2 separate regions of the Homo sapiens genome follow, and region 2 is linked to region 1. The links come from fine-mapping of genetic effects on gene expression. Tissue or cell type: left ventricle. Region 1 holds a variant in brackets; the other region holds the start of a gene. All regions are shown on one strand. Distances are from middle to middle.

Region 1 (4,249 bases):
TTGGTAAATAAACAACAGGAAATATATAGCAAGTCACAGCGGTTTACACAGAATATAAATGAGCATTTGCCTGAGACAAAACAATTATTTAATATTCAATATAGAGTCTGACATATTTATTCAATGCAAGTGTCCATTCTGGTGACCAGTCACAATTTCATTTTTAAGGATGTAAAATATTTAATAGAGGAGAAGAATCCTTTCTTTCAGTCTAAAGTGTTCCCCAGTGAAATTTGAATTTTACTGTTTCCTCCTCCCACAGAATTGAATAAAACAACTGCCTGACTAAAGAGGAGGTATCTTATGGTTTAACTGATTAAAGCTCCACTACCAAAATAGGGGGAAAAAACAATCTCTAGAAACAAGTTTCAAATTAAAATAGGTGTTTTGGACTTTTTTATTCCTCAGTTTTTTTCAGCCATATCATAAATGTTTAGATTGACAAATATGATCCAAGTAAAATCATCACATAATGATCCCCTTAAAACAAATGTCATTTTGTACAGTTAATTTTTTATTATTCTTTGGCACCTGCTAAGCTTCTTTCAAATGAAAAACTATACTCTTGCTGGCACGTTACTGGTGTAATGTCCCGAAATATGTTAATATTATTCATGATTTTGTTCTTAAGTACATTTTAACTGAATTATCTTGAGTTAGGATATAAACAAAATGACTATGACAAATAAATGTTTGAAAAAAGAAATTGATGTAATTTCTTTAATGTTTATTCTTCTATTACAAAGTTTGAGGAAATATAAGAATCACATTTTCATCATTTCTTTTCGATACTATTTATTTTTTATCTGAGACCATTTAGTTTAACCATCTGCCTAAATCAAAATGTACAGGATAGGTCATTAGGTCTACTCGTTGTTCCATTAATCATCATTTTAAAACAGCTTCTGCCGTGCTTGGGAAAGGCTGACTTGTGTTAAGTAATATACGCCCTCTAGTGGATGAAGATGGAGAAGAAAGTATTTGAGTTTTTCACTTAGGGCTAGTTATGAGTTCAATTTCTGAGCACTAATTCTGTTTTCTAGCTTGGATTTCCCCAAAAATGTAACACTATGAGTCAAGTCATGGTGGCTCATGCCTATAATCTCAGTACTTTGGAAGGCTGAGGCAGGAGAGTCGCTTGAGGTTAGGAGTTCCAGACCAGCCTGGGCAACATAGTGAGACCCGATCCATACCAAAAATTAAAAAATTAGCCAGGTGTGGTGGCACATGCCAGTAGTCCCAGCTACTTGGGAGGCTGAGACGAGAGGATTGCTTGAGCTCAGAAGGTTGAGGCTGCAGTGAGCCATGATCCCATCACCCACTACACTCCAGCCTGGGCTACAGAGTGAGACCACAATCTCGAAGAAGAAGAAGGAGGAGAAGAAGAAGAAACATTTTGTTATGTTAAATTTACAAAGGCTCCATCAAGTAGTGTATGAATTTTCCTTGTGGTTTAATTTCATCTCCGTTATTGTCTTTTTGTGCCATCATGGTTCTCTTCATCTTTAAAGTCAGCCAACAAATATTTATTGGATGCCTGCCATGTGCCAGGCATAGCTCTATGCACTTGGGATGTAGCAGTGAGTGAACAAAACAATTTGAAATCCTGTAATTGTAAAATTTAAAACAATATCAGATAATGATCATTGTGTGGTTCCTACATACCAGACCACATAGTTATTTGCAATTATTATTGAATCGAATGCCCAAGAACCCTGTTTAAAAACTGAGGAGCTTAGGCTGGACACGACAGCTCACGCCTGTAATCCCCGCATTTGGAGAGGCTGAGACAGGCAGATCATCTGAGGTCAGGAGTTCGAGACCAGCCTGGCTAACATGGCGAAACCCTGTCTCTACTAAAATACAAAAATTTGCCGGG[C/T]GTGGTGGCGGGTGCCTGTAATCCTGGCTACTAGGGAGGCTGAGGTGGGAGAATCACTTGAACTTGGGAGACAGAGGTTGCAGTGAGCCAAGATTGTGTCATTGCACTCCAGCCTGGGCCACAGGAGCAAAACTCTGTCTCAGGAAAAAAAAAAAAGAAGAAGAAGAAGAGGAAAGAGAAGAGAGAAGAAGAGGGAGAGGAAGGAGAAGGAGAAGAAGAAGAAGAAGACAACAACTCAGGTGCTAAGACACTTGCCAAAGATCACACAGAAAATCCGAAACTTGTGGCCTTGTTTTGAATTTTATTACGGTATTTAAAAACTTTTCCCCTGCAGCTAAAGTGTATGCTCCATGAGGGCAGGGACGGTATCTACTTGTTCATCACCATAACCCTGGGACCTGAAACCTGCCACTGGGTTCTCCAGAAATATCTGGTTAAATGACTTAAGGATAATGAAATAAATGAGCAGAGAGCTGAACTCTGGACTAATTGACACCAAAGCCCTTCTCACCAATGTCTCTACTGCCTGCATGAGTGTCCAGAAAACAGGAAGCAACCCCTTACTGGATGGCTCAATTGAATTATTTCAGAGCTATATGTCGGTTCCACTTTTTTAAAGAGTAGGAAAAGAAAATGAGTCTAAAATGAGCAAGATCTGATTATTTAGAAGATTTAAAAATCTTTGGCCGGCACAGTGGCTCATGCCTATAATCCCAGTACTTTGGGAGGCCGAGGTGGGCGGATCACCTGAGGTCAGGAGTTGGAGACCAGCCTGACCAACATGGAGAAACTCCATCTCTATTAAAAATACAAAATTAGCTGGGCATGGGGGTGCATGCCTGTAATCCCAGGTACTCGGGAGGCTGAGGCAGGAGAATCGCTTGAACCCAGGAGGCAGAGATTGCGGTGAGCCGAGATCACGCCATTGCACTCCAGCCTGGGCAACAAGAGCAAAACTCCATCCACCTCAAAAAAAAAAAAAAAAACAAAAAAAAATCTTTAAGCAGAATCTCCTTTGCCAATTCTCCTGAGTTTTACCACTAGAGAAAACAGGGAGAAGCCAAAGTGCCTTCACCCATGAAGGAATGTATTCCCCTTAAAGGGCCATTCATGCTCTTGGGCTGGAGAGTGGAGCTGGACAGAATTGAGCTTCCCTTTCACTTGCTGAGAAACCTGCTGTGAGTAGCCTCTCATGCCAGTATAAATGGGTTCATTTCCATGGTAATATTTTGTTATGTATTTTATAGTAGTTATTTCCTTGATCATTATATGCTCTATACCATTATTTGCCACTAACCTGGTGACTTAAGAGTACGATAGCTGTCGTTCAGATTTATTAACCTTTCTTCGTATGTTTGAAAGTCATTATGAGTGTACTGGCTTAAGCTAATAGCAGATTAGTAAATATTGAAAGAGTCATCTTGCCATTTGAAGTGTTTTCTGGCTAGAATAAATGTTTGTTCAGGTTGTAGCCCTGCCCAGGTAATCACCAGGTAAAAATACAGGATCAACTTCCAGTGCTGGAACAAGCAGGATAAATTACTAGGTGCAGGAATGGGTTTTATGGTGGCTCTCTCTTAACCTATTATTTAGGTTTATATTTTAAAGGGGAATTATCTATGCTTGCTCCTATTACACTGGACAGAGTAAAACAAACCAAAAGAAGGAAACAGAACAAAGGTTACTTCAGGACAATAGTTATAAAAATAAAACCAAACAGGGTGATCCCAAATATCACAAATCGGGAGGCCTAGCCTGTCATCCAAACTTTATTACAATCACAGGGGTGGTTCTCCTCTCCTTGTTAAGTCTTTTCTGTATGACGAGTTTTGAAAGATAAATTTGCCAATTGATTCCTTGCAGTTCTTCCTTCGTGTCACCTGATTGTTTTCTCCATAGTCAAATTGTGCTCTTAATTGATAACCAACATCTTAGGTCAAGATATCAGTTCCTGGTGGGTTTAAATGCTTTCAGTCACTTTTATTTTTTATTTTTTATTTTTTTATGATGGAGTCTCTGTTGCCCAGGCTGGAATGCAGTGGCTCTATCTCGGCTCACTGCAAGCTCCACCTCCCAGTTCAAGCAATTATCCTGCCTCAGCCTCCTGAGTAGCTGGGATTACGGGCACCTGCCACCATGGTCAGCTAATTTTTTGTATTTTTAGTAGAGATGTGGTTTCACCATGTTGGCCAGGTCTCGAACTCCTGACCTCAAGTGATCTGTCCACCTCGGCCTCCCAAAGTGCTGGGATTATAGGCATGAGCCACCGTGCCCAGCCTCAGTCACTATTTTTATTTTATACATAACAACCTCCCTGACAAGCCTTTCTTCAAGAGGATGGATCCACACTAAGATCCTCTAAGGAGGATC
Region 2 (4,249 bases), 79 kb after region 1:
GCACTCCATCCTGGGTGACAGAGCCAGACTCCATCTCAAAACAAAACAAACAAACAAACAAAAAAGGACAATACTGCAGTGACTGGGTGGAGATGCTTAATATTTTGCGACTTTTAATAATCAAGTATTAGATGCAAACCAGAAGGACCCAGGGGAAAGAGTTAAGTCAAGACAACTTCCCAGCACCTGATACCATCCTTCAATCCCTCCAGAAGGTAGATAAAATTTAGGATATACACTTGACGTAGTCTAAATCTTAACTGCTTTCCACTAGTCCCAAACAGATAGGCCTGGCCTCATCTCAGTTATTGACACTAAAGACATATATAGCTGGAAAGGAAAATGAACTATGTCATGAATGGCATATAATGTGTATTGGACTCACTAGCGAAGGATCAGGCATAGACACACATAATTCACAGTCAAAACCCAAATGGCTAAGCTTCCACATGAAAAAAGTCACACTGGCTTGTTATTACAGCCAGTGGTGAAAGATAGATAGATAGATGGCTATAAGTAACAAGAACCTAGAAGGGATTGTGTCACCTGTCCTATCACGCATTCCCACAGTAGAAATCACTAATCAATTATGGAACTCCACTGAAACTGGGCTAAATCTCAAGAGTCTTTGACACGGTAATTCAGGCACTTGATACCAATGACTGAAGTTCCAAGGGGAGATTAAACCTGTTTGCTACCTTATGTAGTGTGTGAAACCTAGTAACAACGACTGAGCAGTCTGTGTGGTTCTAATGCTTCAAAAACTTGCCTTTTCAAGGTGTATGGCATCCTGAAGCCAATGCCACATCACCTTGGACTAGGTATATCCCAAGGTCTCTCAGTGCAATGGGGAGAGCCCATTGCCATATTATTAACTAATTCTCTCTAAAATGCAGCTTACTAGTTGGAAAGGTCTTCCGTGTAAAAGACTGTAGTTTACACCCTTATGTGGTCCAAGCACCAAAATCAATAATCTGTAAATGTTTGTTCAAACAATAATAATGAGAATCAGGGAATGACAGAGCTGGGAGAGCATGATGACCATTTGGTGGAATAATCTGAGGATCAGGATGCCTTTGAGAATTTGATAAAAGCTAAGGAAGGGCCTTCTTCCGGACACACATCCACGTGAACACTAGTTGGGCGAGTTGACCTCCCCCAACTCCTCCTGACAGCTACGTAACAGATAAGTAAAAAAAAGTATGGGAAAGTAGCTGGCCGTAGGTCGCAGTGGCAAAGCCAAAAGACAACAGTCCCAGACCAAACCTACGCGTCCCCATACCCGCGCTCAGCAGAGTAAGTGTGAGCCACGCGATCCAGCAGTGGGCTTCGTGCACTGCTCGGACACGGCACACTCGAACACCAAAATGAACACTGCAAGGTACGTTTTCAGGAATTGCATGGCTTCCTTCCAAGGAGACCACACGTCATTTCAAAAGCTCACGGCCAAAAAAAACCCGCACCAACCGATCTCACTGCAGCCCCAGAAGAAACGCTCCCACCCCGCTCCTCAGGCCCTGCCTCAGGAATTGCATGGCTTCCTTCCAAGGAGACCACACGTCATTTCAAAAGCTCACGGCCAAAAAAAACCCGCACCAACCGATCTCACTGCAGCCCCAGAAGAAACGCTCCCACCCCGCTCCTCAGGCCCTGCCCAGCCTTGTGGCCTCCCTTCACCCGCCGCCACCATCCGCGGAGCCAAAGCGGAGCCCTGGTCTCCCGCGGCCGGGGATGGGGGCTGGAAGCTCCCGGATCACCTCGCTGCCGGCAATGCTCCACCTGGCAGTGCTGCCCGATGTCCAACTCCGCCATCTCTCCGGCGCCGTAAGGGGCGGGGCAAAGCCTGAGGGGCGGGGCAATGAGCGCGCGCGGCGCCTGACGGGAGAGTGGCGGACCCAGAGGCGGAGTCTACAGGTGGGGGCGGGGCCTGGAAACCAGCTGTGCGATTTGTCCTAGGTGCATTCGCCGTGACCAGGAAAGGCCACTGTTCTGTGAGTGTTCTTCTCGGAGCGGAAGGCCTCTCGCCTAGTCCTTAAAGAAATACCCACCTGCAGCCGGGCGCGGTGGCTCACGCCTGTAATCCCAGCACCCTGTGAGGCCGAGGCGGGCGGATCACCTGAGGTCAGGAGTTCGAGACCAGCCTGACCAGTGTGGCGAAACCCCCGTCTCTACTAAAAATGCAAAATTAGCCGGGCGTGGTGGCACATGCCTGTAATCCCAGCTACTCGGGAGACTGAGGCAGGAGAAACGCTTGAACCTGGGAGGCGGAGGTCGCAGTGAGCCAAAATTGGACCATTGCACTCCAGCCTGGGCAAGAAGAGCGAAACTCCGTCTCAAAACATAAAAAAAGAAAATGAAAAAGAAATGCCCACCTGCCTTTCTGGACGACTGCTTACCGCGGTTCCCTGCATACGGCCACGAAAATCAGCAACGGCTTCACATTTATTTTTTTAAAAGTTAGTAGAACTCCAGGAACCAGAACAGTGCCGGGCACACAGTGTTGCAATAATCAAGCAAAAGAGACAGACATGGGTTATTCAATTCCTGAGCCATCCCTCAACCAGTGTTACTTGATTATGTAGTGTAACATACATGCCCCTTGCAAAACAGTCATCAGGCTTTTTAAAAAGTTAATATTTCTTTATCTTTGTCCTTTTTTTTTTTTTTTTTAAATTCTGGTAGGGGGAAAAAAAAAGTCTTAACTCCTGAGCCCCTGAATGTGTACTGAACCTTACAGAGTTCCTCAGAGAACCCAGACTCATTTAGCACAACTACCTGAAGAAAGCTTATGGGATTCCACTGGGATGTAGGGGAGTATCAGGTGCCTGGTGAGCCACTGCAAAGGTACTGAAGGAGAGGTACTTCTGGGTGGGGTACATATGAATGCCATTCCACCAACGTGATGCCAGGCACCATTCAGCGTGGATGGGTGACAATCACCTGCACTCCTGACAGGAACTAGAAAAGTATTCGATGCCTCCTATATACCTTTGGAGATTCCCAATCAATAATCACTGAGGAAGGGCGAAGGGTGACACTAGGAAAGGGGAATCATTTCTTCTGCATTTGCTCTTGAGCCAATCTATTTAAGATTTCCGTCTCAGAATTGCTTGAGTCTCTGGAGAAACTTTATAAGATGTCATCTGGCTATCCCAGCCTCCATAGCTTTTCTTTTATTAAGATGAGAAAACCAGTTCATAGACATTAAATGATTGGCTCACATTAGTGGATGAACCAGGACAAAAAATGCAAGTACTAAAGACTTTTGGTATTCTTGGATCTAGGGATCAGTGGCTTACCTAGATTTTATGTTTAAGTTGATCAGATCAATCAATAACAGGTTTCCTGGAATTTTACTAGGTGTTTGGAATGTTCTAGATAGGTGGCAAATATATGTTTTATCAGTCCAATTATTATGGATATGTTTTTATTTTTTCAGTTATTGGACACCTCATAGAACATCAGATGATTAGCGTAGCCAAGATTGCAGTTGCTACCTCTGCTTTCTCTATTTAGTCTCCTTTGCTGATTTCTTCTCTAGGTGCTGCTTAAACACATCTATTTCACTATGTTTATGTCTTTGGTCCATTTATCAATTTACATCCTCATGCAAGTGAAATTCCCATGGCTTCCATATTAAAGACTCTCATACCCATATTCTCAGCCCTGAGAACACTTTACCAAACATGAAGTAACTATTTCCAACTGTCTGATAGATCTATCTATGTGCATTCATTTGTCATGGTGTCTTAAGCCCAAAATGGGATAATTTCCTACCATATCATCCCCTTTCTAACAAAGGCAGCCTGCCACATACTTGTTTCATTCAACCAATCAATCAATCTTGGATTTATTCTCCACCTCTCCTTTCTTACTTCTCATGGAAGTAGCCATTAAACACTGTCAATTCTCCCTCAGAAATGTCTCTTAGGCCGGGCGCGGTGGCTCACACCTGTAATCCCAGCACTTTGGGAGGCTGAGGCGGGTGGATCACCTGAGGTCGGGAGTTCAAGATCAGCCCGACCAACATTGAGAAACCCCGTTTCTACTAAAAATACAAAAATTAGCCAGGCGTGGTGGCACGTGCTTGAATTCCCAGCTACTCAGGAGGCAGAGGCACGAGAATCGCTTGAACCTGAGGAGGTTGCAATGAGCCGAGGTAAAGCCATTGCACTCCAGCCTGGGCAACAAGAGAGAAACTCCATCTCAAAAAAAAAAAAAAAAAAAAAAGAACTTAGTCTCTGTAGTT

Alleles and levels. Positions count from the first base shown, and alleles are read on the strand shown. Sizes are in standard deviations (SD) of each study's normalised expression.
In carriers of allele C in region 1, the expression in left ventricle of the gene that starts at base 1,831 in region 2 tends to be higher than with T alone (moderate effect, 0.55 SD a copy in GTEx).

The links. PIP is the estimated chance that this variant, and not a neighbour inherited with it, causes the effect. A credible set is the group of variants that fine-mapping cannot tell apart.
Region 2: it holds the start of ZFAND1, and the variant in region 1 is the best candidate, but not a certain one, in a credible set for the expression of ZFAND1 in left ventricle (GTEx, PIP 0.74).

Annotation. Positions count from the first base shown.
Region 1 is chr8:81,640,707-81,644,955 of GRCh38, forward strand. No RefSeq gene overlaps it. Among named protein-coding and RNA genes, the nearest start is that of IMPA1, 43 kb to the right of the region's middle. The variant C/T (reference allele first, on the strand shown) is at 1,880.
Region 2 is chr8:81,719,470-81,723,718 of GRCh38, forward strand. It overlaps ZFAND1 (zinc finger AN1-type containing 1), which reads right to left and starts at 1,831. Exons shown (of 8, transcript NM_024699.3): 1 at 1,758-1,831. The coding sequence starts at 1,812. RefSeq lists enhancers at 865-1,809, 1,737-1,786 and silencers at 1,327-1,466, 1,497-1,566.